Homo sapiens: one gene and its partners. The protein of the gene in region 4 interacts with the protein of the main gene of each other region in a pairwise test. Each region holds a gene or a part of one and is shown on either strand. Other genes may lie near its edges.

Region 1 (5,039 bases), on a different chromosome or scaffold from region 4:
CTGCTAAGTATTTAATAAAAAGTATGTTCCTAATAGTGATTCTCCAGCAGAACTGAGTTCACGAAGATATCATCACCCTATGCCACTTTACCTCAATGTTTCTTGACATTTACAAATCTTTCTGGGAATGTCACAGTCACATCAAAAGCAGTGCTTAGGGTTAAGTGTATTCTTTGGGCACTGAGGGTGGGGAAAGGAAGAGAGAATAGTAAGTATTCATCTACAAATAGCTGTTTCTTGTAGCTAGAAAATTATCATATAGTGAGACACACAGGCCAAAATAAAAGCCCTGCAGACATTACTGACTATTGTATATGAAGAAGCTGAGATATGTGATGTATATGATGTAGCTGCAGACGTTACTGACGTGTATATGAAGAAGCTGATTCTGCAGCAGGTCTGCTTTTTGATCAGGCTTCTAGACTGTAAATGCTTTCAAAAATGTACAGGGACCATCATGTTAATTCATAGCATTAAACAATGTATGGAATGCCCACTACGTTCCAGGTATTATGCTGAGATATTGTGGTGGAAAATGAATATGCCCCCCACCCTCATGGAGCATATTGACTAGAAGGGAAGATAGATGATTAAATAAATAATGACAAAAAACTCTAGTAAAATAATTGGGAAAGTACAAAGGAGACAGTTCTGGATTGGTGAACCTCTCAGGACAAAATGATTAAGGTTAAAAAACTTACCTTATCATAGTACCTTGATACCGAGGATGCTCGATATGCCCTTTCTTAATTGATAAATAGTAAAGACCCTATAGGTCAGCTATTGGGCTGACTTAGGGGTTCATATTCGATCTTCAGTAAGAGTGCAGTACACTAAGAGGTTCAAACTGGATTGCATCCCCAGATTCACATATGAACAAGTCTATATCCTTGAAAAAACCAGATCTTAGGGATCCAACAGGTTGAAACTAACCCAGGGCCAAGCTGAACTTTCAGGGCAGTTCTCAAAATAACTGAGCTTTGTGGTCGTTCCCGCGCACATACCCCACAATTGGAATGATACAGAGAGGATCAGCATGGCCCCTGCGCAAGGATGACACACAAATTCATGAAGCAGTCCGTATTTTAATTTTAAAAAAAATGAGTTTCACAGGCTGAGCGTGTGTGGCCAGAGCCGGACTAGAACCAGATCTTCTGGGGCAAAGGGGCGAGGGGAATGAATGACATTTATCCAACACCTAGTTGTTTTTTCCCTTTAGCAGGAAGTCATTATGCAACTTACACATATTCATCAGATTTCCTCTGACTTACCCGGACATGTACATGGGAATGATGTGCACTGCCAAGAAATGTGGGATTAGGTTTCAGCCTCCAGCTATTATCTTAATCTATGAGAGTGAAATCAAGGGGAAAATTCGCCAGCGCATTATGCCAGTTCGAAACTTTTCAAAGTTTTCAGGTACCTCATGTCTTATCTTGCCTCCTGTCTTAAATATTCTCTAAATACAGGTTCACATCATGACTCTGTCAGGGACTGGATGTGTGACACTGGATGAATTACTTACTCTCAGTGAGCTTCAGTTTCCTAATCTATAAAAGGGAATTGTAGTGTTTTTTTCCAATCTGATAATTAATAATCCTTTTGGGATTGCTGCCTAGGTTAAATGATATAGCATTATTCAATAATATTAATTCCCTTCTCTCATTCCAAATGTTTTTTATTTGTAGTCTTAATATTTTATTAATACCACTACTGCTATCTAAAAGCTATAATATCACTTTTCTTCTCAGACATATTCTCCAGTTGAAAGTGTTTAATATCTCTACAAAGTGATTTTTAAGTTAAAGAAGTCAAAACTGTATCTGTCCTTCTCCCACCACACTGAAAGCTCAATATAAAGGAATGGTTCTACAAAGTAATTCATTCCAATCAAGCCATTTAGCTACTTGACTATAATGGAGATAATATTTTCAGGGTTCAGAGTTTTTGTTCTGTTTTGGCTGTTGCAGTAGTTTATGGCGTATATGATGTACGTGGTACGTATGTGGTATATAGTTTTCTTCTCTCTCCCAGATTGCACCAGAGCTGCTGAACAATTAAAGAATAATCCGCGACACAAGAGTTACCTAGAACAAGTATCCCTGAGGCAGCTAGAGAAGCTATTCAGTTTTTTACGAGGTTACTTGTCGGGGCAGAGTCTGGCAGAAACAATGGAACAAATTCAACGGGAAACAACCATTGATCCTGAGGAAGACCTGAACAAACTAGATGACAAGGAGCTTGCCAAAAGAAAGAGCATCATGGATGAACTTTTTGAGAAAAATCAGAAGAAGAAGGATGATCCAAATTTTGTTTATGACATTGAGGTTGAATTTCCACAGGACGATCAACTGCAGTCCTGTGGCTGGGACACAGAGTCAGCTGATGAGTTCTGATACCAAACACTCAAAACATGCATTGGGCTAGCAGAATATCCATGTTTATTACCAGACTGGTTCTGGAAGAAGCTGTAAAGAATACTAAATATGTTGGGTTATAGGGGATTGACCATGTTACTTTTCAAAACCAGGACATTTAAAGCATCTACTATGTAGGTGCATGAGGAGTATGGGAAAAACAGAATAAAGGAATCTGCCTTTAAGGAGCTTACAATCATGCCGGGTGCGGTGGCTCACGCCTGTAATCCCAGCACTTTGGGAGGCTGAGGCGGGTGGATCACCTAAGGTCAGGAGTTCGAGACCAGCCTAGCCAACATGGTGAAACCTCGCCTCTACTAAAAATACAAAAATTAGCCAGGCGTGGTGGCGGGTGCCTGTAATCCCGGCTACTCAGGAGGCTGAGGCAGGAGATTCGCTTGAACCTGGGAGGCTGAGGTTGCAGTGAGCCGAGATCGCGCCATTGTACTCCAGCCTGGGCGATGAGCAAAACTCCATCTCAAAAAAAAAAAAAAAAAAAAGCTTACAATCTGACTGGAAGATGTCAAAACCTGTGAAAAGCTAATTAGCAGTATTAAGCAACACAAACATTAGTGCCAAATGCATGATAAAGGCTAAAGAAGGCCAGAGCATATATTACTGTAGAGTAGAATAGTAAGGGAAGACTTTGTCCTTTAGTAAAGAGATAGGAGGTGGCCTGGCCCTTGAAATAGTAGTGTTTAGGTAGATGCTTGTGTAGGATTCCTGATAAGAGCAACTGAAAAGAAGGAGAGGGGAAGTAGTAAAGGGACAAGAAACAATTTTTTTTTTGAGGAACCATAAGCAAATTATAGTTTGACAAGACAAGATTGGGGGACATATATGGTTACCAGGGAATTACCTCTTATGTGTTATATCTTTATATTATTTATCTCTGGAAAAGAGTACCCTGCAAAATTCCCTACAGCTGCAAGCAGATGTCACTTGATGGACAGAGGGGGAATTCTGCCCCTCCGGTATCGGGAAATACATACTAAAGACATTGCGAAACGCTGAACCTCTTCCCATAAATAAAAGGTTTGTTTGTAAAATGGGAAATCCACCCATAATAAATGAACAATAGGCACTGCCAGTTTAGGCCTGTTCATGAATGGATCTGCAAGACAGCATCTTCGTTTAACAACATTATCTGTGATTTGATACATTTATCCTTATTACAATATTGTTTAGTTGGTAGAAATTCTATGTTTTCTACAAGGAAATTGATGTTTATTAAATAAAACTGAAAATAATTACTCAGTGTTTCTACCTGTTCACTTCCACTCTCCTTACCATTAAGCACTTCATTAAAAGGGAGCTCATTCTTGTAGTGATATCACCAGAGTTTTGAAATAGTCAGATCTCATACATACAGTAGCCAAAGGGAGCCAAATAATTTTCTGAATTAGAGATCTTTCCATATCTACATAGTATTCCTTTATTCTTTATTGTATAGATATAGGTAGTTTATTTTTTATTTGAGACAGGGTCTCACTCTGTCACCCAGGCTGGAGTGCAGTGGCATGATCACAGCTCACCAAAGCCTCAACCTCCTGGGCTCAAGTGAGCCTCCCCTCTCAGCCTCCCAAGTAGCTGTGAGTACAGGTGCCCACCACCACACCTGGCTAATTTTTGTATTTTTTGTAGAGACAGGGTTTCACCATGTTGCCTAGGCTTGTCTGGAACTCCTGGGCTCAAGTGATCCACCCACCTCAGCCTACCAAAGTGCTAGGATTACAGATGTGAGCCACTGTGCCTGGCTATAGGTAACTTATTTTAAAATTTGTCCTTGGGTTGCTGGGCGCAGTGGCTCATGCCTGTAATCCCAGCACTTTGAGAGGCTGAGGCGGGCAGATCACGTGAGGTTGGGAGTTCAAGACCAGCCTGACCAACATGAAGAAACCCCGTCTCTACTAAAAATACAAAATTAGCCGGGTGTGGTGGTGCATGCCTGTAATCCCAGCTACTCCGGAGGCTGAGGCAGGAGAATCGCTTGAACCCGGGAGGTGGAGGTTGTGGTGAGCCGAGGTCATGCCATTATTGCACTCCAGCCTGGGCAACAAGAGTGAAACTCTGTCTCAAAAAAAAAAAAAAAAATTTATCCTTGGGTTGTTTTCTCCTTTCATGACTACAAACAGTGCTACAACAAATAACCTTGTACATTCTCTGTTTTGCACATATGCAAGGATATCTATTAGATAAATGCCTAAAGGGGAATTACTAAGTATGTGCATTCTAAGTTTTAATAGATACTAAGTTGTCACCAATAGACGTTCATTCATTCATTATTTGTAGTTAATAAGCACTTACTACATTCTAAGCCTGTACTGTTCTGGAGTTTGGGGTTACAGCAGTATATACAGCAAAGTCCTGGGTTTACAGTTGGAGAGCAGAGACATAAATGCATAGAATAGTGTCATCAGATGGTAAGTGCTCAAAATGGGATGAAAAGGAGAATGATAGAGGGGATGGGAGCCACTGTTTTAGATCACATGATGAGCAAAGGCCTGAAGGAGGCAAGGAAAAATTGGTATGCATTTCAGGATTAGCGGGGAAAGGTAAGTGTATTAGCCCTGGGGCTGGAGTGTGCCTTGCATGTTTGAGGAGGAGCAGGAGGCCAATGTG
Region 2 (9,219 bases), on a different chromosome or scaffold from region 4:
GCTGAGTGGGCACTGGCGGTGTCCCTGGGCGCACAGTGGGGGCAGGAGTGGCAGCCCCAGACAAGCCCTCCCAGGCTGCCGGCCCTGGGCCCTGGGGCGGCTGGGCCTCTGGGCAGCCAGGTGGACCCTCACTCTCATTTCCTGGGGGCAGGGGCAAACCAGGTGAGTCCCGGCACTCAGCAACCCCTCCCTCAGGCTTGTGGCCGTGGCACAAGCTCCCGTCCCCCCATGAGTGGGTGGCTCAGGTCCCACCGATACAGGAGGGGTGATTCAGGCTGGATGGTGTGGGGCACTCACCCGAGCGCAGGCTTCTGCAGACGCCTGTCCCCGTGAGCAGCATCCCCAGCTCTGACTGGGCCTGTGCCTCTGGCTGGTGGGGCGGTAACCCTGCCCGGGTGGGGGGCACAGTTAGGCATGGGGTTTGCATGAAGGAGGGGTGGGGTCGGTTCTGGTAGGTGACAGGGTGTTCCTCTGGAAGGTGGGAGAGCTGGGTAGGGCTGGTAGCACAGAGGCCCTGCCCAGCTAGGCCTGCTGCAGGGTGGGTGCAGGCCCCAGGGAGAGGGGCGGGGTGGGGCTGGCTGGTCCTCACCCAGGGAGACCACTGTGCCGTACTTCTCCAGCATCGCATCCCAGTACAGTTCCTTCTGTGACCGGTCCAGCAGCCCCCACTCCTCCTGCGGATGTGGCCCATCACTGTAGGCGTCTTTCCACCCCTTCCCTGCCCTGTCTGGTTCACATTCTTACCTATTACCCGGAAGAGTCAGCAGGTTACCTACGCCTCATCTGCCCCTCCTGCTGAGAATGATCTCAAGGTGTGTGTTTGTTAAGTGCAGAGGTTCTCCTTCAGATCACCTGACCAGTGCTGCTGCCAGCACTCATCCCCCTCTACTACACCATCCTGCTCAGAGGGCAGGTTTGGCAGCATCACAGGGACCTGAGTGACTTTATCGAGGAATGAACTCCCTGATTGGGGGTCAGCCCTCCTTGCTGCCTGAGTCCCATCATCTGGGGCTTTGCTGGGTTGGGAAAAATAATCCTGAGGGACAAGCTGTGGCAAGTCCAGGGGCAGGAAGGCGGCAGCTGTGAGGAGCCACAGCTAGAGATGGTGCTGGCTGGAGGTGAGGACACTGGGAAGTGCAGCCTACCCACCCTGCCTCACTTTCTGACTGTGCCATGGGGCTGTGGAGGGAGCCTGGAAGGACTTCTTAGCCTCGAAACACATCTCAACCAGCAATGTTGCTGCTGAAGCTCCCCAGTGGAGTTGTTAGAGGAGCCGGGAGAGGAAAAGACCTTGCTACCCACACTTGGGAACCAAGCGATCCAGGTAGAAGAGGCCTCAAGCTGAGCTTCCAGGCCTAACAGGTGGCCTCTGAAGAAACCCCTAGGAGAGAAGGGACTTCGGGCATTTCCCAGGGAGAGTGTCTCCATCTGGTCTCAGGTGTGGGGGGAGTCCTGCCACAGCTGGTCATCTTCTCCCCTCCCCAGCTACACACAAAAGTTCAAATCCCCAGGTCTGGCTCAGGACCTCTGGGAGCAGCAAACCTCCCAGCTGACTTCTCTGGAGGTGAGGAAGCCAAGCCCACTAGTTCCAGCCACTCTAAACTGGGTTTCCATGGCTTGAGGCCCAAATCCTTTTTTTTTTTTTTGTTTTTGACACACAATTTTGCTCTTGTTGACCAGGCTGGAGCGCAGTGGCACAATCTCGGCTCACTGCATCCTCTGCCTCCTGGGTTCAAGCAATTGTCCTGCCTCACCCTCCCTAGTAGCTGGGATTACAGGCGCCTGCCACCACTTCTGGCTAATTTTTGTATCTTTAGTAGATACAGGGTTTCACCACATTGGTCAGGCTGGTCTCGAGCTCCTGACCTCAGGTGATCCGCTCACCTCAGCCTCCCAAAGTGCTAGGATTACAGGTGTAAGCCACCATGTCCAGCCCCAAATCCTTTTCAATAATAGATCACCAGTCTGTCCCTCTGCCCCAGGTCCTGTGGAGGGGTACAGCTTTTACAGACTCCACTTCTGGGAAGCAAAGAGCCACTAGTCAAGGAGCCTGGAAAACCACCAGGCAGAGGGCAGCCATGGGGACAGTCCCTTCTCACACCTGGGGCCTATACTTCCCACTTGGGGCTGCTCACCTGAATCCTGGGTGGGTGGAAGGATGTGGAGGCTGGTTCTTGGTGTCCATGGTTCCCCTCAGGGGACTGTGCTGCAAGTGGAGGGCTGGAGGGTGCTGAAAAGTGGGGCAGATGGAAGGGTGGTGTCAGGGGCTGCCCACATGAGCCATGGCAGATGAGGAGCTCCTCTGCTGTGTGACATGGCACGTAGCCAGCCCTTGGCTCCTGCCTCCCAGGTCCCCATCCCAGACAGGGACATCCACATTCACTTCAGGAGTCCCAGCCTTGACACACCTCTCCTGGGACTCCCACCCTAGCCAGGAATGTCCACACTTCCTCCAGGAGTCCCTCATCTCTGGTGGGACCCCAACCTCACCCACTTCCTGTCCATCGACATTGGGCTCCTCCTTCACACTGCAGCTGAGCTGGACAGACCCCTCTATTCTGGTGTCCTGGGGACCTTCCCCAGGGGACTCCACTGTCCCTGAGGGGTGGGGGCTCCCAAGTGGTTCCTCTGTCTTCTGGGCTGCAGGGAGCACCTCCTGCTTCAGGACATGGGCTGTGATCTGAGGAGAAGAGGTAGGTCACAATGGCTCTAGCCAGGGTCTATCCCTCCAAGAAGCTGATGCCAGCCACACTCACCCAGCCCAACAGTTGCCCAGGGTCATGCTGCAGTCCTTCGACTAGGGCAGCGGCCTCCTCAGGACTGCCTGGCCGCTGACCGCGCACCCAGGCCTGGATCTCGGGAGGCAGTGTGCCCAGGAACTGCTCCAGCACCAGCATCTCCAGCATCTGCTCCTTGGAGTGTGCCTCAGGCTGCAGCCACTGGCAACACAGCTCACGCAGCCGGGCCAGGGCTTCTCGGGGACCTGCCACCTCCTGGTAGCAGAACCCTCGGAAGCGGAGGCGGGCAGTCTCAGGCTCCTCAAGGGTGGTCTCTGGGTCCATGACGGGCAGGCATGGGGGACCCAGAGGGGATGGCATTCTTGCTCAAGGGGGTGGTCTTGGAATCGTCAAGATGGGCCTACAGAAAAGGAAGGGTCGGAATGTCAGCCAAGAGAATCTGGCCAGGGGAAGGCAGACACCAGGCTCAGCCCAGGGGGCTGAGACCAGGACCAAGTGTACTCTGAGGCCAGAAGAGATAAGGCCAAGAAAGCTTCATGGAAGGAGGAGGGTCACAGGACCCAAACAATGATGGCAAATGAGAGCAGGAGGAAGCCTCAGGGACAAATGCTTGGACGCAAGGTGTCCAGGGAGCTTCCTGGAAATTGCAAACAGTTGGGTCCAGCAGGGGACTGCTGGGAGATGACGCTAAAGAGGTGGAGAAAGACAGTCATCACAGAGTTCCAGCGCCAGGCTGAGGAGCCACAGTGTCTAGCCGAGGTGCGAGGAGAGTGGACCAGGGTGGGCGGGTAGAAGGTGGGGCCAGGCTGTAATGTACGGGGACGAGTCGCCCTCCACAATCTCGGGGAGGTTGACTGGGTGGGACCTCCTTTAGGAATGGCTCTGGGGAGGGGGCACGTGGACATCGTGCTCGCTGACCACAGCGAGCCGTGGGCGACTCACACTGCCGGGGCCCGTGCATGTGAAAACGAAAAGCAAAGGCCAAGAAAAACGGGGCCAAAGCTCCACGTTGCGCGGAGTCGAGGGATGGCCACAGCATCCCGGCCCTGAAGGTCTGCAGTGAAAGACGCCCACCTGGACGGGCCTGAGAGACCAGGCCTGACACCCGGCCTATCCGAGGGATGCTCGAACTTCGGGATCTGTCCCCAAAAGGGGAAGGCAAGAGGGAGGCGTTCCAAGAGGACTTGCCAGGCCCGGCCCCCCGGAACGGCGTTGAGGGTAGGAAAGGCCTGAGCGAAGGCTGAGGTGACGCGCGCGGCCTGTCGGGAAGTGGGCGGGCCCTCCAGGGCGCCGACAGCAGGAGCCGTTCAGGCCCCAGAGGGCGACCCCAAGCCCTCCCACGGGGTGGAAAGGCTGCGCCCACTCTGGCAGCCTGCGCTCACCTCAACCCGGAGCGGTTGCTTGGAGGCCGCTTCCCGGATGTGGCGCCGCACAACGCGGGGCGCCTCAGCCGGGTGTTGCCCCGGCGACGCCGCGCTGACCAATCTCTCGCCTGCACCGAAGGCACCGCCCATGCCCTTTGAACTACATTTCCCATGAGCATCAGCAAGACAGGCGCGACCGTGACCCGCTGACCCGCATTTGCAGCAGCCTCTGACGCCTGAGAGGCGCTCTGTTCCTCTAGGAGGTACGGCAGAGTCCCAGGGTTATATGGTCTCCCTCCGCTCTGAGAGCAGCTCTTCCCGGGTTATAAACTTGCGCGTCTGTACAGTGGGCCGGTTTCTATTGGCAGGTGAGGGGAGGGGGTTTTGCCCAATCAGAGGTGGCGCTTGCTTGGCCCCGCCGCCCCCACGCCATTCCCCGGGCCAGCCCCTAGATAACGCTAGGGCATATCCGCCCGCCTCCAGCTGTTCCCGTGGCAACGTTCAGGAGCGTTGCCTCGACTTCCGAAGAGGCTGGAAGTGGCGGCCCAGTGGTTTCCTAGGTCGAGTAGTTCGCTGGGACTCGCTTCCAAGTGGACCCGGGAGAGGCGGTGGTGTAGAAGACCACCCTGAGCCTGGGCTTTCTCCCGCCAGGAGGGTGCGAGGGCCATCTTTGACCTCTGTTAAGCGCCCTAAGGAGGTACCGACGGTTGTGACCGCAGTCTCTGACGTCTTCAGATGTCAGTCCTACAAAGTCGGGGGTGGAGGTTTCCCTCCAGGCTGATCGGACATGCTCAACCGTTTATTTACCTTTGAATTTGGGGAGCAGAACTAGCCAGGGTGACACTAGTTTCTCCCAATAAGCAGTGTTACAGTTTTCTAAATCTGTGGGGTCAGTTTTGCTTCCACACTTAAAAGTGGCCGAGCCATTACTTAGTCAGTCCTAAATTACACCGCCTGTTTTGGTTTCTTTGGATACCTGGGAATCCCTGCTGCCTGCTCTGGATGAAGAGCAGTGGTCTTGATCACCGATTGGAAGCACCGAGCATGTGCGTGGATGAGACTTGTCAACTCGGAGCTTTCCAACGGCCTCCTCAGGTTGTTTTTGGGGATGAGGTGCTTAGGCCTTTTCTCTGGGACTATGCAGAGTCCCAGAAGGAAAAAAAAACAAAAACTTTCACCCTCCACCATGTGGGGAGAGCACTGGGGCGTTAAGGGCTTCTTCAGTAGTTGTTCCCCAGGCAGCTTTGATATAGGTCTCCCGTCTCTGGGCTGCTGGTTCTCAGCCTTCTGCGGTTCTGGAGTCAGCCTGGTGGGAACTCTCTCCTCTTCGCCAAGTCGCCACGTAGTATTTTGCCTTCCCTAACTTAGTGACAGCTCTCACCCACTTCTAGCTTAGGAATGCCATTGCTCCTGACTCCTCTGTCACCATCCTCATACTTGTGGGTTATGTGTTTTAAATACTCCCCTCTGTGGTTTCAGTGGATTTCTGAGCCCAGTGAGATGCATGTGTTCAGTCTGACCTTTTGACATAGAAGCCCAGGGATACTTTTACAGTCACTACCTATTCAAAATTAAGAGCAGAGGGGGAGGTTGGAGGGAGGTCAGCCGAGGGGCCAAGACCTGCATGGAGGTGGGAGCCTAGGTTGGGGGCCACTGATCAGTCATGGGTTTGGGGAGGGGAAGATTGGAGGAGGGTGGACAAACTGAGGGACAACAGGGGCACAAGCAGACGTGGAAAGGAACTTGATGGAGGGAGGCGGCTGGTGGGAAGACAAGGTAGGGTACTGAGCCCAGCCTAAGGGGTCAGGCGGGCTCAGGGCAGAAACTTCGCTCAAGAAGCGTCTGTCAGAGGCATAGAAATGATTTCACGTGACTCTCTGGGTATCTACTTGTTTGACAGATGCTTTTGCTCCTGACTCCCATGGGCTCCCCAGAAAAGTGCTCTTTCAGGCAGGGAAGGGTTATTGTCTGCATTTCACAGCTCTGCAGACTTACTGGGGGACAATGGTTCAGGGACCTACTGGGATTCTGGTGGCCCAAGTCTTGCAGGCTCCAGGGGAGCTAGGTTCTGTGTGTCTCCACTCCCTGCAGGAACCTGTGAGGTTTCACAGGTGGAAGAGTCTGGCCCCAATATCAAGTGTGTGGGGCCTGGATCTGGGCTCTTTGTGTATAGGGCAGGATAGCTGCAGGATTTTGGAAGCCATGGGATGGAGTGCCCACTGGTTGGAGTCAACCTTGCAGGGTCATCACACATGGCCACACCCTCTATCTCAGCAGCAGAAGGAACACAGCCCTGCCTTGGTTTCTCCACCTACCATCCTCCCATTGCCAGGATCCACCAGGACTCATCTAGCAGGGCTGCTGCTCCAGACAGCCCCACTCTATCCCAGTTCATCCAGCTCCTGGCTACCCCAACCCACCTCTGACCCTGAAAAGGATACAGGTATCCCACTCCCTCCCTGGGCTGCAGACAGGCTGTATCTCTACTCTGTGGCCTCTTGAGGGTACCCAGGTTGAAGCCAAGTCCAGGAACTTCTGTGATGATGACAAACGCTGATGGCATGTCAGGGTATGTTCAATACCATCTGCATTGTATGAGGGTGAAATAGGTGTCAGGTTGCTACCGTTCACACAAATGTTTAAAAAGAAACCTTTATCAGAGAAGCTCTTGAACTGCTATTAAGACTGAACCATGCTCTGGAGTAGGGACAAGAGGCTGTGCTCTGGAGGTCCAAACTGCTGTACAGGAAACTGCAACACCTACTCTGAGTTGCAGATGGTAGTCTTTTTTTTTTTTTTTCCATTAAGGAGAACATGAATTTCCTTGGAGGTGAGGCTCCAGGTAGGGACAGGGCCTGGTCTGCTGAAGGCCACAGGAAGCAAATGGCCCCCAGTCCACCTTTCTGTCCCTGCCATGAAGGGCCATTACACTGGGGTGGGGAGGTCCTCAGGAGGGTGTCACACATAGCCTTAGGCAATAGCAAGTCTTTCCTATTCAGCTCTGTCCAGCCTCCAATTGAGGAGGGATAATGGGGGTGAGACAGGGTTGGGGGTGAAGTGGCCACCAAACCCGGCAAAAGTGAGCAGCTCCATCTTGTCTGAAGTTAACATCATCCCCTCAGGTATAAAGCCTCCTCCTCACATCGACTTTGGTAAACCAGTCAGTGACAGGCCTTGGCCAAGCTGAGACTTGGGCAAAAACCTGAACGAGTGCCACCGGAAAGCCATCATCCTAGCTCTGTCCTTCCAATGCTGAGAGTCACATGTTCCCCCATGGGCATCCCTCTCCTGAGTCGGCTATGTGTGTGAAGCCAGGCCAGGCCGTGTGCCTCAGTTTCCTCATCTTCCAAGTCGGGATACCAGCCACAGAGCCATCTCACAGGGCTTCAGGAGAAACTTCCCAGTACTCAGGACAGGAGCTGGCAGTGAGCATGTGTTGGCTCTCATTAGGACCCCACCTGTCAGCGTCTACAAACATGATGTTCAGTGGACCCAAACCTTTTCTCTTTCCCAGAGGTGGCGGCTGACAGAGCCCAGACCCTGATCCCCAGTCCCTTGTGGTCTCTTGTCTGCTAGGCTGGCCCCTAGGAAGTCTTGGATGAACAGAGGCAGTGGGTTGAGGGGAGAATACCCTCAGCGGGCATCTCTCCAGCGGCCAGTTTGTGTACAGCTGTCATAAGTTTCTCTGGGCCACCCCCAACCCATGCCTGCATCCCTCTCACCTTAGCATCCACTGTCATATCACATGAAGCCGCACCACAGTGCAGTGCTGTGACTGTCGGCCTCCTACTGGCTCTGAATAGTCTCGGCCCCACTAGAGTTCAGCCACCACGTCCTCCCCCTGATGTTGCTGCAGTGCTACCTCTTTGGGGATGGAGGTGTGATCTGTGGGTGAACTGGCAAATCCTGTCCCCACGTGCAAATGAAATCACAGCCAAAGGGCCTCCCTTGTCCCTGACTAGCAAGCACGGGACTTTTTCTCTGCTGTGGATCTGCAGAGGACATATGCCCTTTAGCTGTGGAAGGGATTCACAGAAGGCCAGGGCTGCAACCTGTGACCTCAGACCTCCGCTGGCTGCGAGACGGCGGCTGGGCCCGAGGCGGGAGTGGGCTCGGTTTCCTTCGCTGGCGCACCTTCTGATGATGCCCCGGCAACAGACCTGGCCTGGGGGTGCAGGCTGGCCCTGGATCGCCGGACGGTCTTCTCGCCGGTATGGATCCTCTGGTGGTGGAAGAGGGCCGGGCGCTCACGGAAGGCGCGGCCACACTGCGTACACACGAAGGGCTTCTCGCCCGTGTGAATGCGCCGGTGGCTGAGCAGCACGGCGCCCTTGGCGAAGGCCTTGCCACAGTCCACGCAGCGGAAGGGCCGCTCGCCCGTGTGCAGGAGCTGGTGCTGGGTGAGGTTGGAGCTGTGGCTAAAGGCGCGGCCGCACTGTGGGCAGGCGAAGGGCTTCTCGCCTGTGTGCACGCGCTGGTGCTTAAAGAGCGAGGAGCCCTGGCTGAAGGCAGCACCGCAGAGCGCGCACACGAAGGGCTTCTCGCCTGTGTGCGTACGCTCGTGCTGGATCAGGTGCGAGTTGCGGCAGAAGCGGCGGCCACACTGTGCGCAAGCATAAGGACGCCCACCCGCGTGGATCTTGCGGTGCTGGCTGAGGTTGGAGCCGTGGCTGAAGGCCTTGCCGCACTCGGAGCAGCGGAAGGACTTCTCGGCCGTGTGGATGCGCTGGTGCCGCACCAGCGAGGAGCTATGCCGGAAGGCCTTGCCGCACACGGGGCACGCGTAGGGCGTCTCGCCGCTGTGGATGCGCTGGTGCTGCGTCAAGTGCGACGTCTGGCTGAAGGCCTTGCCGCACTGGGCGCACTCGTAGGGCCGCTCCCCGGTGTGGGTGCGTAGGTGCTTGAGGAGGTCGGAGCTCTTCACGAACACTTTGCTGCACGCCCTGCATTCGAAGGACTTCTCCCCAGCGTGAAGAGCCTCGCCCAGCTCGTCCCAGGTCGAGGGCTCCTGGCCACCGAGGAGTCTATGAGGCTCCTGCCAAACTGCACCCATTCGGTGATGTCCCCGACCGCCGGCAGCCTCCAGGTCCTGGGCGCTCCCAAAGGTTCTCCCAGGG
Region 3 (8,565 bases), on a different chromosome or scaffold from region 4:
CCTGTAGCCTGCCCAGTTTCCCCAGCCCTGGAGCTTCCCCCTCCACCCACCTCCTTCCTGCAGCTCCGGAATTCTTCCTAAATCTCAGAGTAGGGCATAGCCCTTACCTGCTGAGAACAAGCTGACAGCTCCTCAAAGCTCCCAGGACCAAGCTCCACACCTCACTTGGAGCCCTGACTCTTCCCTGTGGACCTCAATACCCTAAGGCCCCATCTCCTCCCTGGTGAACTCCTATACACCCCCCAAAGCCTGGCCCCCAAGCCCCTGCCTCTTCCCTGGTAAACTATACATCCCCATCACTTTGGCCCCCAAGTCTCTGCCTCCTCTGAGCCGCAGGTTCCCCAGGCATCCCCATTGCTCCTCTGCTCCCCAGCTCTGCACCCCAACTGGTCTGCCTCACCCCAGGCCACAGGGGAGGTCATGGGCCCAATTCCTTATCCACGGTGTCCCTGCAGACTCCAGAAACATCTGCTGAATGAAGAGGGGAGTGTGGAAGAACTGGCGGAGGAGGGAGGGCCTGAGACCCGCCCCCGGTCTCTCTCACTGCCCCAGACCCTGCTCAGCCTCCACTCCCACCCCAGCGCCAGGCTGCCAGCCTTGGAATGCCATGTGGGCACCCACCTACCCCAGGAGCCCCCACAAAGCCGGTCTTTGTGTGAGTTCAGACTCCGGGAGAAGTTCCAAACCCTCGGCCGCCCTCTGAGGTCAGGGCAGGCACGGGAATTGCTGGATGGGCCGCCCCTGCCCTCCGACCTCGGTCACCAGACCCTGGCTCTGCACAGGCCTAGGCCAGAAGAGGGGTGCTGTTGACTCAGTGCCACGTGGCAGACCCTGAGTCAGCGATGTGTGCCCACTTTGTCATCGCCACCATGTACTAGGCAGGTTGCCTGTTTTGCAGAAGAGACCACAAAGGCTCAGAGAGGCTGAGCCACTTCCCCAAGACCACACAGCAATACAGTAACCACTGGCTCTCAACGCCCTTGAACCCCAACTCCCTGTGCCTTCCCCACCTAACGCCCTCAACTGGCCGTGAGTCTTAGAGGGCAACCCTGATATTTAGGGCCTGCTCCCAGCTCTGGCCTCTGCAGCAAGCAACTTAACAATGTGCCTCAGTTTCCCCATCTGAAATATGGGGAAGATCGGAACGAACTTTGTCCTGGGGCAGAAGCTTGTGACCAAACCGCAATGCCCCCTAAGCTGTGAGCTTCCTCTGGACGAGAGGCTGCAACCACTGCCTGGAATTCCGCCCTTCCGTGCCCACCTCAGCTCTGTGAACTTGCAGACCTAGTTCTATCTCAGTGAGATTCCCTGTGCAAAAAAAAAAAAGCTGGCCGGGCGCGGTGGCTCACACCTGTAATCCCAGCACTTTCGGAAGCCAAGGCGGGAGGATCACTTGAGGTCAGGAGTTCGAGTCCAGCCTGGGCAACATGGTGAAACCCCGTCTCTACTAAAAATACAAAAATTAGCTGGGCATGGTGGTGGGCGCCTGTAGTCCCAGCTACTTTGGGGGCTGAGACAGGAGAATCGCTCGAACCCAGGAGGCGTAGGTTGCAGTCAGCTGAGATCACACCACTGGACTCCAGCCTGGGCAACAAGAGCAAAACTCAATCTCAAAAAAAAAAAAAAAAAAAAAAGGATGTTTGCAGATTCTAAGAGGAAACTCCCGAACCCCTGGGTCCAGCCTCCCCAGTTCATAGATGAATAAACCGAGGGGACTCGAAGAGGAAAAGGCCTTTCTCTGCATCTGGGGATGAGGCCCCTGGACCCCATCGGCCCTGGAGCCCACATCTTTCTGCCCATCTCGGGAGCTCCGTGACCCCAGGCAGGGCTGTGCCCCTCGCTGGGCCTTGACTTTCCCATCTGTGAGTCCTGAGGCTGAAGAAGTTGATTCCGGACGGGAGTCAGGCCTGTTTACAGATTCAGGAAGGGCCTGGGCTCCCAAGAGCAACCCCCGCCCCCTGCAAGGCCAACAGGAAGAGGGATGGGGGGCAAGCAGCTGTGGCCTCCCTTCCTGGCCCCCACACTCCTAAGACGGCCGGGGCAGCCCCGGGACCTGCTGACACCTGGGGCGGCCCAGCTGCCTGGCCTTCCCCTTCCTCCTCCCTGACCCATTGTTCTGCCAGAAACGCTCCCATCCAGGCAGCCAGACAGGAGGATGACTGCTCTCCCAGGGGAACAGGCCGAGGACCAAAATAAACCTGGGTCTTCCTTCCTGCAGGAGGCGGTGTAGCGGCCGCATCAGCCCTTACAGGGCAGGGGCCTTCCTAGGGACTGCCTGGGGCCTAGGGGCATCGCCCTCCAAATGCCAGGGCACCCTGCCATCGTCACAAACACACACAGCCTGCTACAGCTTCTGGGATTCAGGTGTTAACACCCATTCAGTGGCTCAACGAGCATTTATGGAGCACCAGCTGTCCTGGGGCAGAAGCTTGTAACCAAACCCCAGTGTCCTGAGCCAGCGACCTGTGCCTATTCGTCATTCCCACCTGGTACTGGCCAGGTTGCCTGCTTTGCAGAAGAGACCACAGAGGCACTGGGGATACAGCAGGCATCAAAACAGATCCCATCCCTGCCTTGCTAAGGCCCTGGCTTTCTAGACCCCAAGCTGCCTCCTCATTACAAAATCATCTGGGCCAGGCAAGGTGGCTCACACCTGTAATCCCAACACTTTAAGAGGCCAAGGCAGGAGGATTGCTTGAACTGGGAAGTTCAAGACCAGCCTGGGCAACATAGCGAGATCCCATCTCTACAAAAAAAAATTTTTTTTAATTAGCCAGGCATGGTGGCACGGGTCTGTGGTCCCAGGTACTCGGGAGGCTGAGAGGGGGAGAATCGCTTGAGCCCACGAGGTCAAGGCTGCAGTGAGCTATGATCACACCACTGCACTCCAGCCTGAGCAACAGAGCAAAACCCTGTCTCAAAAGGAAAAAAAAAAAAAAAAAAAAAAAAGCCAGGTGCACTGACTCACACCTGTAATCCCAGCACTTTGGGAAGCTGAGGTGGGCAGATCACCTGAGGTGAAGAGTTGAGATCAGCCTGGCCAACATGGTGAAACCTTATCTCTACTAAAAATACAAAAAAAATTAGCTGGGCATGGTGGCAGGCACCTGTAATCCCAGCTACTCTGGAGGCTGAGGCAGGAGGATCATTTGAACCCGGGAGGTGGAGGTTGCAGTGACAGTGAGCCGAGGTCTCCAGCCTGGGTGATAGAGCGAGACTCCGTCACAAAAAACAAAAAACAAAACAAAAAAACCCAGTCCGACGGCTCCTCAGACATCTAAACACACAGTTACCATAGGACCCAGCAATTCCACTTTGGGGGATCTACCCAAGAGAAACACAAGCATACACCACGCAAACACTTGTTTTGCACGTCACAGTTTACAGCGGCGTGACCCAGGGTAGCCTGCAAGTGGAAGCAACTCAAATGTCCGTATGTCCATTAATGGGTGAATGAATAAACAAAATGAGATCGGTCCAAACAATGGAATGTTCTCTAGCCATAAAAGGAACGAGGCTCACACACAAGCTCCAGCGTGGATGCACCTTGAGGACATCATTCCCAGTGACAGAAGCCAGACACACAAGGCCACAAAGTGTGTGATCCCACTTCTATGAAATGTTCAGGAAGGGCCGGGCACCGGCTCACGCCTGCAATCCCAGCACTTTGGGAGGCCGAGGCGGGCGGATCACAAGGTCAGGAGATCGAGACCATCCTGGCTAACACGGTGAAACCCCGTCTCTACTAAAAATACAAAAAATTAGCGGGGCGCGGTGGCGGGCACCTGTAATCCTGGCTACTCGGGAGGCTGAGGCAGGAGAATGGCGTGAACCCGGGAGGCGGAGCTTGCAGTGAGCCAAGATCACGTCACTGTACTCCAGCCTGGGTGACAGAGCGAGACTCCATCTCAAAAAAAAAAAAATGTTCAGGAGAGGCCTGTCCACAAGGGCAGAAAGCGGACTCGCGGGTGCTGGAAACTGGAAGAGGGGAAAATGGAAAGCGATTGCTAAATTGGGAACCAGGTTTTTTTGGGGTGAGTGGTAATGGAATGTTCTGGAATTAGAGATTCCAGAAATTTATGATGGTCACATAACTTTCTGGTTATAAATTGTACACTTTAAAACAATGATTGGCCAGGTGCGGTGGCTCATAACTGTAATCCCAGCAGTTTGGGAGGCAGAGGGAGGAGGATCAATTGAGGCCAGGAGTTCAAGACTAGCCTGGCCAACATAGTGAGACCCGGACTCAACTGAAAAAAAAAAAAAAAGTCGGCCGGGCGTGGTGGCGAGCACCTGTAATTCCAGCTACTCGGGAGACTGAGGCAGGAGAACCGCTTGAACCTGGGAGGCGGAGGTTGCAGGGAGTCGAGATTGTTCCACTGCACTCCAGCCTGGGTGCAAAAACTGTTCCCCTGCTGGAAGGAGGAGGTGCCGGTAACCAATAAATAGAAACAAACAAGTTAATTTCAGGAAGAGAGATATGGGCCACGGGGGTGGGGGATGAAGTTCAGGGTAACCAGGAGGGCCTCTCTAGGGAGAGGCTGGGCCAGTTGAACTGGGCCTGCAATGACAGGGTCTGCGGGAAGATGCTCCAGGCAAAGGGCACAGCCTGTGCAAAGGCCCTGGGGCAGGGCTGTGTCACGCTTGTTACAGGAACAGCCAGGAGGCCTCAGCCCTGTCCACAGCCTCTGTCCAGGTCCGTCCACAGCTCTGAGGTCTCCCTGCTGTGACCCTTGGCAGGCCCCATGCATGGGGGCAGCTTTCCCATCTGCAAAATGGGTGACCAGGCACCAACTCCCTGGCTCCCTTGACTCTTCCCCTGCTCCCTATATTCCTTTTTTTTTTTTTTTTTGAGACGGATCCTCCTGCCTCAGCCTCCCAAAGTGCTGGGACTACAGGTGTGAGCTACCACCCCTGGCTTAAATGTACTTTATTTAACTATAAGTTTATGTATGTATGTATGTTTGTATGTATTTTGAGATGGAGTCTTGCTCTGTCTCCCAGGCTGGAGTGCAGTGGCCAAATCTCAGCTCACTGCAACCTCTGCCTCCCGGATTCAAGCGATTCTCCTGCCTCAGCCTCAGCCTCCCAAGTAGCTAGGACTACAGGTGCATGCCACCACACCCAGCTGGTGTATTTGTATTTGTACAAAAATACAAATTTGTGTATTTTTAGTAGAGACGGGGTTTGGCCATGTCGGCCAGGCTGGTCTCTAACTCCCGGCCTCAAGTGATCTACTCGCCTCGGCCTCCCAAACTGCTGGGATTACAGGTGGGAGCCACCACGCCCAGCCTTAACTATAAGTTTATATTCTCCCACGTTAAATAATGGCTGCGTTTAACTACCAGATGGCAAAATTCCTGAAAACACAGGAGGTGGCTCTGGTGAGCTGGCTGCAATTATGTCACAAGTCCCTGCCGTCCCCACCCCTGTCCCATGAATTCTTCATGCACCTCACAGAGTGTCAATAATTGATGGATCTGCTCTGCAGGTGCACGCCAGCCGCTCCATCTGTCTTGTCTCAGCCCCGGCTGCACTCAGTCCGGGGGCCCAGGGGGGGCCTCAGGCCTCTTCCCGCCGAGGCCAGTGATCCCAGGCCTCATCCCACCGACTCCCAGGGTCCCACTGCACCAAGCCCTTTAAGACCCATGACTCACAGGCTGGGCGTGGTGGCTCATGCCTGTAATCCCAGCACTTTGGGAGGTCGAGGCGGGCAGATCACCTTAGGTCGGGAGTCCAAGACCAGCCTGGCCAACATGGTGAAACCCCATCTCTACTAAAAATACAAAAATTAGCCGTGTGTGGCACACGCCTGTAATCCCAGCTACTCGGGAGGCTGCGTCACGAGACTCGCATGAACCTGGGGGGCAGAGGTTGCAGTGAGCTCCACTTCATTCCAGCCTGAGAAACAGAGTGAGACTCTATCTCAAAAAAAAAAAAAAAAAAAAAAAAATCCATGACTCAGGACTTGCAAGCCGGTGTCCATTTTATTTTTATTTATTCATTTTTTTTTTAAGACAAGGTCTTACTCTGTTGCCCAGGCTGGAGTGCAGTGGTACCATTATAGCTCACTATAGCCTCGACCTCCTGGGCTCAAGTGATCCTCCCACCTCAGCCTCCTGAGTAGCTGGGACTACAGGTATGTGCCACCATGCCTGGTTAATTTTTTTTTTTTTTTTTTGGTAGACATGGCGTCTTGCTATGTTGCCCAGGCTAGTCTCGAACTCCTGGGCTCAAGTGATCCTCCCGCCTTGACCTCCCAAAGTGCTGGGATTGCAGGCGTGAGCTGCCACACTTGGCCAGTGTCCATTTTATTTTATTTTTATTTTATTTTTTTGAGACGGAGTTTCACTCTTGTTGCCCAGGCTGGAGTGCAATGGCATGATCTCAGCTCACTGCAACCTCTGCCTCCTGGGTTCAAGTGATTCTCCTGCCTCAGCCTCCCAAGTAGCTGGGATTACAGGCATGCGCCACCACGCCCGGTTAATTTTGTATTTTTAGTAGAGACGGGGTTTTCTCCATGTTGGTCAGGCTGGTCTCGAATTCCTGACCTCAGGTGATCCACCCGCCTCGGCCACCCAAAGTGCTGGGATTACAGGCATAAGCCACCGTGAACGGCCAATTTTATTATTTATTTATTTTTTGAGATGGAGTCTCGCTCTGTTGCGCGATCTCAGCCCACTGCAACCTCCACCTCTCCAGTTCAAGCAATTCTCCTGCCTCAGCCTCCCAAATAGCTGGGATTACAGGCACCTGCCACCATGCCTGGCTAAGTTTTGTATTTTTAGTAGAGATGGGGTTTTGCCATGTTGGCCAGGCTGGTCTCCTCCTGGGCTCAAGCGATCCTCCTGCTTCGGCCTCCCAGAATGCTAGGATTACAGGCATGAGCCGCCATACTTCGCCAGTGTCCATTTTAGTTATGGCAAAAGAGAGAGGGGAATCTGTTGGCCCAAGTTGGGGGTGACATCAGTTGTTCTCAAACTGGGTTCCCCAGCACCCTCAGGACCACCCCATGGATGGGCAGGGGCCAGCTGCCTGCTGGGTTGTGGCGGGGAGCCTGGACACTTTCCACTGTGGCCAGATTTCCACTGGAGAAAGGGTTCGAGGGCCAAACATGAATTATCAGCTACCCACAGCCCATGACTCTGCAGAGGAGGGGACAGGCTTGCCTCAGCCCAAGCAATAAATTATTAGAGTGCAGAGAAGCCTAGGATCACCTGGCAGGAGGTGCATCCAGCCCCTAAATGTGTCCCAATGCAACCCACTTTTTTTTTTTTTTTGAGACAGAGTCTCACTCTGTTGCCCAGGCTGGAGTGCAGCGGCGTGATCTCGGCTCACTGCAACCTCCGCCTCCTGGGTTCAGGTGATTCTCCTGCCTCAGCTTCCTGAGTAGCTGGTATTACAGACACGTGCCACCATGCCTGGGTAATTTTTGTATTTTTAGTAGAGATGGGGTTTCACCATGTTGGTCAGGCTGGTCTCCAACTCCTGACCTCAGGTGATCCACTTGCCTCAGCCTCCCAAAGTGCTGGGATTACATGAGCCACCCTGCCTGGCCTAACGCAACCCACTTCTTATCTCCCCCACAGCCTCCATCCTGGTCCCCTCGTCCCTCAGCACCATCTATCCCCATGCCCCCCGTCTGTCCTCCCTGTAGCAGCCAATGGGTGCCTGTGAGTACCTGAGTCAGGTTCCATCCTTCCCCTGCCCACCACCCTCCATGGCTCCCACCTCCCTTGGGGTCAAAGCCAAGTATTCCTGGCAGCCCATAAGATCCTGCGCACCCTGCCCTGTCCCCTCCCTGCCCTCCCCTCCTCCCTCTCTCCTCCTCCTCACTGCTCCAGCCCCACGGGCCTCCTTGCTGCTCCTCTACCATGCCAGGCGCCATCTTGCCCCAGGGCCTTTACACAACCTGTGCCCTCTGCCTGAGCTGCTCTTCTCCCAGGTCTCCACATGGCTGTTTCCTTCTTGTCATCCAGGTCTGGGTTTACATGGCCCCTCCTCAGGAAGCCCTCCCAGATCCCCCATCTATTTTATTTATTTTATGTGTATATTTTTAATTTTTTTTTTTTTTTTGAGATGGAGTCTCACACTCTGTCAACCCAGGCTGGAGAGCAGTGGTGCAATCTCGGCTCACTGCAACCTCTGCCTCTTGGGTTTAAGTGTTTCTCCTGCCTCAGCCTCCTGAGTAGCTGGATTACAGGCACCCACCACCACGCCCGCCTCATTTTTGTATTTTTAGTAGAGACAGGGTTTTGCCCTCTTGGCCAGGCTGGTCTCGAATTCCTGACCTCAGGTGATCCGGCCACCTCAGCCTCCCAAAGTGCTGGGATTACAGGCGTGAGCCACGGCGCCCAGCCAATTCTCTTCTTTTTCTTTGAGACAGGGTTTCACTCCTGTCGCCCAGGCTGAAGTGCAGTGGCATGAGCTCGGCTCACTGCAGCCTCAACCTCCCTGGGCTCAGGTGATCCTCCCACCTCAGCCTCCAGAGTGGCTGGGACTACAGGCCTGCGACACCACACCTGGCTAATTTTTTTTTCTTTGTTTTAAGTAGAGACAGGGTTT
Region 4 (8,975 bases):
GCTACTCAGGAGGCTGAGGTGGGAGGAATGCTTGAGCACAGGAGGCGGAGGTTGCAGTGTTCTGAGACTGCACCACTGCACTTCAGACCCTGTCTGAAAAAAAAAAAAATTTTTTTTGCAAAAAGTAAAATAAAATTGCTATAAGACAACACAGAAAAATATGTTCATATTCTCAGGTTAGGCATTGATTTCTTAAATAGGACACAAAAAGCAGTAACCATAAAGGACAAGATTGATAAAGTATACTTCATTAAAATTAAGAATCTCAGGCTGGGTGCAGTGGTTCATGCCTGTAATCACAACACTTTGGGAGGCTGAGGCTGGTGTAGGTGTATGACTTGAGCCCAGGAGTTCGAGACCAGCCTATGCAACATGGCAAAACCCCATTTCCACTAAAGATACAAAAATTAGCTGGGCATGGTGGTGCTCATCTGTAGTTCCAGCTACTTGGGGGTTAAGGCAGGAGGAATACCTGAGTCTTGGGAGATCAAGATTGCAGTGAGCCGTGATCGTGCCACTGCACTCCAACCTGGGCAACAGAGTGAGATTCTGTCTCAAAAAAAAAAAAAAAAAAAAAAAAGGCCAGGCACGGTGGCTCACACCTGTAATCCCAGCACTTTAGGAGGCCGAGGTGGATGGATCATGAGGTCAAGAAATCAAGACCACCCTGGCCAACATGGTGAAGCCCTGTCTCTACTAAAAATACAAAAATTAGCCGGGCATGGTGGCACACACCTATAGTCCCAGCTACTCAGTAGGCTGAGGCAGGAGAATTGCTTGAACCCGGGAGGCGAGGGTGCAGTGAGCCGAGATCGCGCCACTGCACTCTAGCCTGGCAACAGAGTGAGACTCCATCTTACAAAACAAACAAACAAAAAACACACACACACACAAATTAAGAATCTCCAGGCATGAAAAAAAACACCATTAAAAGACTGAAAAGGCAAAATACAGACTGAAAAAAATAAAAATGCAATACATATATATCCTAGAAAGGACTCATATCCAGAATAAAGCATTATAAATGAGAGAAAAATAAGCATATCAACGAAAACTGGGCAAAAAGACTTAACAGGCACTTCACAAGAGGAAATATAAATGGTCAACAAAAGATACTCAACCTCAGTACCAGGAAAATGCAAAATGAAACCACACTGATATATTACTGTACCTCTACTAGACTAGCAAAAAAAATTTCAACTGACAAGCACCAGCAAGGATGTGGGGTAACCGGAACATTCCCTGCTAATTGGTAGAACCACTTTGGGAAAATGTTCAACAATTTCTAATACTAGAGTTTTATCACCCACGTACCTATAAAACCAACAATGCCACTCCTACGTACATACTCCAATCTAGTAATGTCCTATTTCTTGATCTTTGGTGGTTCACTTAGTAAAAATTCATTACCTGCGATGTTTTTTGTTTTTGTTTTTTTTGAAAGACGGTCTCACTCTGCCGCTCAGGCTGGAGTGCAGTGGCATGATCAAGGCTCACTGCAACTTCGACCTCCCCGGCTTTGGTGATCCTCCCACCTCAGCCTCCTGGGTAGCTCGGACTACCAGCGCACACAACCACACCCAGCTAATTTTTGTATTTTTAGTAGAAAATGGGGTTTTGCCACGTTGCCCTGGCTGGTCTCAAACTCCTGGGCTCAAGTGATCCACCTGCCTCTGCCTCCCAAAATGCTAGGATCACATGCGTGAGCCACCGCACCCAGACCACCTGCACATTTAGAATTGTGAACTTTTTCTCTATACTTCAATAACTTAGTTCTAAGATTTATTTGACACAAAGTTCTCGGAAATCGTAGTTATCATTTTAGAACAGAAAAAAGACCACCTGGGCCAGGTGCGCTGGCTCACGCCTGTAATCCCAGCACTTTCGAAGGCCGAGGCGGGCAGATCATTTGAGGTCAGGAGTTCGAGACCAGCCTGACCAACACGGTGAAACCCCGTTTCTACTAAAAATACAAAAAAAAAAAAATTAGCCGGGCGTGGTGATGTACGCCTGTAATCCCAGCTACTCGGGAGGCTGAGGCAGGAGAATATATCCAGCCTAGGCAACAGAGTGAGACTCAGCCTTAAAAAAAAAAAAAAAAAAAAAAAAGAAAAGAAAAGAAAAGAAAAAGAAGGCCGGGCACGGTGGCTCACGCCTGTAACCCCAACACTTTGGGAGGCTGAGGCGGGTGGAACACGAGGTCAAGAGATCAAGACCATCGTGGCCAACATGGTGAAACCTCATCTCTACTAAAAATACAAAAATTAGCTGGGAGTGGTGGCGCGCGCCTGTAGTCCCAGCTACTCGCGGGGCTGAGGCAGGAGAATTGCTTAAACGCAGGAGGTGGAGGTTGCAGTGAACCAACGTCGCCACTGCACTCCAGTCTGGCGACAGAGCGAGACTCCCTGTCAAAAAAAAAAAAAAAAAAGAAAAGAAAAGAAAAAGAAAAAGAGCTTCTGGTACACTGGTGAAATTCTACTAACAAAATTTTAAAACAAAAAAAGTTACTTACATCAGCTCAGAACAAAGATTAAAAACTACCAGCAGATCACTTTTCTTTAACTTCAGTAAGCACTGGAATTCATTCTTTCGGCAAAGAAAGGAGTTTATTATTCAACACTGTAACCCAAAGAAAAGATACCACTTCAAGAAAATACTTCTTTTCGAAAGCAGCTCTACCAGCAATAGATAGGAGGAAAGCGAGGAAACCATTCCAAAAGGCTTGGTTTAACTCTTGGGTGAAAGGATGCCAAATGAGATGATCTAAGAAGCCCCAAAGACAGACAGACAGACAGACACAGGGAAATCACAGCAACTCTTTTGAGTGGAAACACCAACACCACAATCCAACCTACCGGAAATCCTGAGGTTAATTTGAGGCTTGCCCCACTAGTCATAAGGTGATTCAGGAATGGCTACAAACTCTTCTCAAGTTCATTCTGGACCTGGCACATCTGTCTTGCCCATCAGCAGCCTGGAGACACGCCATGCGCAGAATCCCGGAGGCCAAGTAAAGACGCCAACTTTGCAAGTCAGGGGGGCGAGTGCTCTCGCCCCTCAGGTCCCCAAAGGGAACCGACTTCTGGCCTCGAGGGTGGGGTGCAGGGTCAGTGTCCTCCACGGGATTTACGAGGACGTGCCCCCGAAGCTGCTCCGTCCCTCCACCGCCCTGGGACGCCACAGTTAGACCCGCCGACGAGTTTCTTCCCCAGCGCCCACGAGAAGGAGGGCTGCGGGCGGCGGCGGCGGCGACAGGCGAGGAAGCGAGTGCAGGGAACTTAGGCCCTGGCGGGGCCAGGCGCGCCCGCCCCGCTCCCACAGCAAAACTTGCGGCGGCCCCCGCCCGCCGCGCCTCGGCCCAGCTGTGCGCCAGCGGAACACGGACTCACCGCCCGCCCGGCCTCCCGGCCCGCCCGGCCTGGCGCAGCGCCCCTCACCTTGGAAACGTTGAGTAGACTTCGCCGTAAACATTAACTTCCCATCCAGCCGGCAGCCGCGCCGCCGCGTCTCAGCGCCTCGGCCCCGCTCCTGGCTCCACGGGTCGCCCGTCCCGAGTTCCCAAAAGCACCACGCTCACTCAGAAGCTCAGGGCCGCCTCGCGACCCTCACCTACCCCTCCCGGCACCGCCGCTGTCGGAACTGCAGCCAGCCCCTTGCCAGCTGGCCAGCTGGTTCCTCCGGGGTCCGGCCCGGCCGCGTCAGGAGAGCCCAAGGCGCAGGCGCGGGAGGGCCTTAAAGAGACCCGGCAGCCTCTACCGCAGAATGGGTTGGAGCAGGTTAGGGGCCGGGCGGGCCGGCCGAGAAAAGGAGAAGGCGAAGGGATTGGACGGAGTGCAGAGGAGGCGGGGAAATCGCTCTCGCCCTCCGCCTCTCTTTCAAAGCACCAGCCTTCAGTCCTGCAAGTCGCCGACTTCCCCGGCCACTGGAACCGCCCCTTCCATGTTAAAACGGTAGAAGACACACCCCCTCGGGGGCCCGAAGCGACCCCGAGCTTAGGACTGCAGGCCTCGCGCTGCCGCACCGACGCGGAGCCTGACTTTCAGGGCCCTGGCACGCGGTGCTGACGCGCATGCTTCGGAAGGCAGCCCCGAGCTCCCCCAGAGGTGGCCTTAGGGCACTCGCAAAAACAATAATCAACGCGTAAATGACACTTGTAATTGTAATGTACTCTTACACGTGTCTTCGCATTGGGTTTATGCAGACTACTGCAGGGGGCAGAACATGGGCACGAATACGTAAGATTCAGCCGGGCAGCCCTCCAGCGTCAACGAAGACATTCTTAGAAGGAAAGTACTTTGTTTGGGACGGAAACAGCCTATTAATTTCTGGTCCAGGAAAAGCAGGCAAGAAAAAGTAAAAAGGCAATACAGATTACTTTCATTATATGTTTAGAAGTGACAGCCGGGCGCGGTGGCTCACACCTGTAATCCCAACACTTTGGGAGGCCGAGGCGGGCGGATTGCCTGAGGTCAGGAGTTGGAGACCAATCTGGCCAACATGGTGAAACCCCGTCTCTACTAAAAATACAAAAAAAAAAAATAGCCCGGCGTCGTGGCGTGCGCCTGTACTCCCAGCCAAGCTACTCTGGAGGCTGAGGCAGGGGAATTGCTTGAACCACGGAGGTGGAGGTTGCAGTGAGCCAAGATCGCGCCACTGCACTCCAGCCTGGGCGACAGAACGATACTCTGTCTCAAAAAAAAAAAGGGACAAAAATTATAATAATTAGCAGCACAAGAAACTCCGGAATTATTTGTCTAGAAATTAGTATCCCTATTTTTAAATTTAAATTTATAAGACAGAATTCGCAGATGGGTTTCCACTGAACTAAGCATTTCAGAAAAAAAAAAAAAAAAAAACCTTACTTTTTTTTCAACAAGATTAGGAAATACCAAGAAATAGGAAGTAAAGCCATGCCCTCCACCCAGCTAAAAACTTTGAAAACTTGAACTTTTATCTGAGGCATATGTTTGCATAACTTTAGGTTGTGCCATTATTTAAAGAAATTTCAATTAACAATTTTATTGCAACTCAATCCTTGTATAAGAAAACTAAGCTACATCCTTGATAATGTACCTCTCCCCTCTTATATTCCATCCGTCAGCAAATTCTATTGGTTTTTCCCTTACAAATGGTCCTTGAATCTGTCCTCTCCTATTTCCTCCATCACCACCCTAGTCTAGGCTACCTTCACCTGGGGAGTGGGGGTGGAGGGATTACTGACCTAGTCTTCTTGTGGTTTACCCATATTCCCTTTATCCCCTCTCTAATCTCAACACAACAGGCAGAGTGACTTTTTCAAAATAACAGTGTGACCCTGTCACTTCCCAGCCTAAACCACTTAAACACTTTCCCATTCTCTTAGAAAAAACCCTCCTAACTAACCAAGCCCTGAATGGCCAGGTGCCTTGCCCACCTCTCCACCTCTTCTCACTGCTCAGACCAATTCCACCCTGCTGTCTGTGCTCCAGCCACGCTAGCCTCTTTTATTCCCTATTTACCGGCTTCCTGGCCTCAACAGAGCTTTTACTCATGCTTTGCTCTGTGCCCAGAAAGTTCTCCCAGTCCTCATCCTTTGACAACGGCTCTAGTATCCACCTCTGAGAAGCATCTTCTGACCTCCCTATGGTGGTCTCTTACTCCTTTCACATCGCATGAAACTGTAATTGGGTAGTTATATTGGTGAATTTTTTACTATTAGCTCCTTAAGTCCAGGATTTGATTTTGTTTGTTTCATGGTTGTATTTTCATATTTGTTAAATATATATTTGTTCAGTAAATGAAAATTATAGATGCTAAAACTTAAACTAAATTTGGCATAAAGTCAGAGAAAGGTAAAATGTCACCATCTGACATTTGGAATCAGAATCTAAAAACTTCAGTTATGTTAAAACTGATTTTATATCATTTTAGCTGGGTTGTCACAAGATTCTTTGGGTAACCTTTAAAACAGTTCTCAAAGAGCCTTTTGTAAGCACCTGAATTAATAATGATAAGACATGGGATGGCCCACATAAAACTAATAACATTGATTGCTTCAAGAGAGGAAGACTGAGCCAAGCACGGTGGCTCACGCCTATAATCTAAACACTTTGGAAGGCTGAGGCCGGCGGATCATTTAAGATCAGGAGTTTAAGACTAGCCTGAGCAATATGGCAAAACCCTATCTTTACAAAAAAAAAATACAAAAAAAAATTTAGACAGGTGTGGTGGTAGGCACCTGTAGTCCTGCTACTTGGGAGCCTGAGGCAGGAGGATTGCTTGAGCCTGGAAGGGTGAGGCCGAAGTGAGCCATGATCGTGCCACTGCACTCCAGCCTGGGCGACAGAGAAAGATCTTGTCTCAAAAAAAAAAAAAAGAGAGAGAAAGAGAGAGGAAGACTGGGTGACTGGTGGGTACCAGTGGGAAGGAGATTTTTACTGCATGCCCAAAAGGTTTAAAATTGTACCTTTTTTATCTTAAAGTATGTGAATTATCTATGTGAAGATAAATGACACAAAGTATGTGAATTATCTATGTGAAGATAAATAAATGACACAAAAGAGTGTCATACTGTTCCATTTATTTGAAATTCTAGAAAAGAAAATTAATCTGTGGTGAAAAAAAATCATAACAGTGGTTCCCTGTGGCAGGGGATTGACTGGGATGGTACATGAGTGAAATTTCTGGGTGGTAAAAATGGTCTCTATCTTGATAGGGATGTGAGTTACATAGGTATATTCACTTATCAAAAAATATGCAGGTAACATTTCAGTGAATGTAAATTTTACCTTAAAAACTATAAAAAATAGTGGCCGGGCGTAGTGGCTCACACCTGTAATCCTAGCACTTTGGGAGGCCAAGGTGGGTGGATTGCCCGAGCGGAAGAGTTCAAGACCAGCCTGGACAACACAGTGAAACCCCATCTCTACTGAAATACAAAAAAAAAATTAGCCGGGCATGGTGGCGTGTGCCTGTAATCTCAGCTACTCGGGAGACTGAGACAGGAGAATCACTTGAACCCGGGGGGCGGAGGTTGCAGTGAGCCGAGATTGCACCATTGCACTCCAGCCTAGGTGACAGAGTGAGAGACTCCATCTCAAAAACAAAACAAAACAAAACAAAACAAAAAAAAAACTAGGCAGGACATGATGGCTCATGCCTGTAATCCCAGCACTTTGGGAGGCCGAGGTGGTGGATCACAAGGTCGGGAGTTCAAGACCAACCTGGCCAACATGGTGAAACCCCATCTCTACTAAAAATACAGAAATTAGCTGGGCGTGGTGGTGTGTGCCTGTAGTCCCAGCTGCTCGGGAGGCTGAGGCAGGAGAACTGCTTGAACCCAAGAGGTGGAGCTTGCAGTGAGCCGAGATCGCGCCACTGCTCTCCAGCCTGGGCAACAGAGCAAGACTCTGTCTCAACAGCAACAACAACAACAAAAAAAACCCCATAAAAATTAAATAAAATTTTAAAATCTAATAGCTAACACCTGGTTGAGCACTCAACATGTATGGGTATTGGCTAAGGCTGTATACATACACTATTTCGTTTAATCCTCATATTGTCCTCATGGGGTAGGTATTATTATCATAACCCCCTTGCATATGAAGAAGCTGAAATTTAATAAATACCAAATAACTTACCTCAATTTATACCCCTGGAAAGTGGTGGCAGAGTTTTTAACACAGTCAGTTGAATGCCAGAAGTGGTTAAACATTAGGCCCTGTAGCACTTCTCTGAAATTGTAATATTTTGGTTTATATACATTACTCATCTACTAGATCGAGAGCTTCACAATGATTGAAATCCTGTTTTGTCTTTTTGTTTGTTTGAGGTTTGTGGTTTCATTTTATTTTATTAATTTAAAAGACTGGGTCTCACTATGTTGCTCAGGCTGGACTTGGACTCCTGAATTCAAGCCATCCTCCTGCCTCAGCTTCTTCTTCTTTTTTTTTTCTCGCTCCGTCGCCCAGGCTGGAGTGCAGTGGCAAGATCTTGACTCACTGCAAGCTCTGCCTCCTGGGTTCACGCCATTCTCCTGCCTCAGCCTCCCGAGCAGCTGGGACTACAGGCGCCTGCCACCACACCTGGCTAATTTTTTGTATTTTTAGTAGAAACGGGGTTTCACCATGTTAGCCAGGACGGTCTCAATCTCCTGACCTTGTGATCCGCCCACCTCAGCCTCCCAAAGTGCTGAGATTACAGGCATGAACCACCGCGCCTGGCCTTCAGATAGTTTTATTTGCGGTAAATTCAGTGAGCAATTCAAAGTTTTCTATGTTCTGATACTGTACAGCCTTAGCATTGATTTGGGTCACTGTCTGGGAGGGGAACCCCTCTAAACTTGGCAAGGGTTAAACCCTGGAACACCGTGCTCTAAACTGCCAAAGGTGTTTAAGTCAGTCATGTTAGCTCCATTGTTCACAGAAAGGAAATGCAAGGGAGACAGTCCTCTGAAAGGCAAAAAACAACCCAAGGTACAAAGAAGGAACTCACCAGAGAAGTCAAACCCACTGTGAACAATATTCCTCCCTCACCCTGGGAGCTTTTTAGAGAACTAGACCATCTCAGTTACATTCTAGGTTTGCACTGTCCAATACAGCAACCACTAGAGATACTAGCAACATGTGACTATTTACATTTAAACTTAAATTAAGCCAGGCATGGTGGCTCATGCCTGTAATCCCAGCACTTTGGGAGGCCAAGACAGGAGGATCACTTGAGGCCAAGAGTTTGAGGCCAGCCTGAGCAACATAGTCAGACCCTATCTGTACAAAAATAAAAATAAAAAAATTAGCTAGGTATGTTGGCACAACTGTAGCTATTCTGGAGACTGAAGTGGGAGGGTCACTTGAGCCCAAGAGGTGGAGGTTGCAGTGAGTTAAGATCACACCCCTGCACTCCAGCCTGTGTGCCAGAGTGGGGCCCTGTCTCAAAAATAAATAAACTTAAAAGTTCAGTTTCATAGTCACACTCACATAGTTCAAGTGCTCAATAAT

What was found.
Region 1: the proteins of EVI5 (region 4) and CEP19 interact in binary tests that used the Homo sapiens proteins (3 or more experiments, as listed by UniProt).
Region 2: the proteins of EVI5 (region 4) and ZNF446 interact in binary tests that used the Homo sapiens proteins (3 or more experiments, as listed by UniProt).
Region 3: the proteins of EVI5 (region 4) and TNFAIP8L1 interact in binary tests that used the Homo sapiens proteins (3 or more experiments, as listed by UniProt).

Annotation. Positions count from the first base shown.
Region 1 is NC_000003.12:196,704,908-196,709,946, reverse strand, and holds the end of CEP19 (centrosomal protein of 19 kDa), read left to right. Parts: intron 1-1,219; 5' UTR 1,220-1,289; coding exon 1,290-1,419; intron 1,420-2,034; coding exon 2,035-2,396; 3' UTR 2,397-3,670; downstream 3,671-5,039. UniProt on the Homo sapiens protein: Required for ciliation. Recruits the RABL2B GTPase to the ciliary base to initiate ciliation.
Region 2 is NC_000019.10:58,471,098-58,480,316, reverse strand, and holds the start of ZNF446 (zinc finger protein 446), read right to left. Parts: upstream 3,966-9,219; 5' UTR 3,813-3,965; intron 3,139-3,812; 5' UTR 3,099-3,138; coding exon 2,757-3,098; intron 2,681-2,756; coding exon 2,491-2,680; intron 2,231-2,490; coding exon 2,136-2,230; intron 675-2,135; coding exon 590-674; intron 388-589; coding exon 298-387; intron 142-297; coding exon 1-141. Other genes in the region: ZNF324 (zinc finger protein 324A), read right to left, coding at 8,163-9,219. UniProt on the Homo sapiens protein: May be involved in transcriptional regulation.
Region 3 is NC_000019.10:4,641,994-4,650,558, reverse strand, and holds part of TNFAIP8L1 (tumor necrosis factor alpha-induced protein 8-like protein 1), read right to left. Parts: intron 1-8,565. UniProt on the Homo sapiens protein: Acts as a negative regulator of mTOR activity.
Region 4 is NC_000001.11:92,781,399-92,790,373, forward strand, and holds the start of EVI5 (ecotropic viral integration site 5 protein homolog), read right to left. Parts: upstream 3,711-8,975; 5' UTR 3,438-3,710; exon of another isoform or gene 2,898-3,437; coding exon of another isoform or gene 2,856-2,897; intron 1-2,855. UniProt on the Homo sapiens protein: Functions as a regulator of cell cycle progression by stabilizing the FBXO5 protein and promoting cyclin-A accumulation during interphase. May play a role in cytokinesis.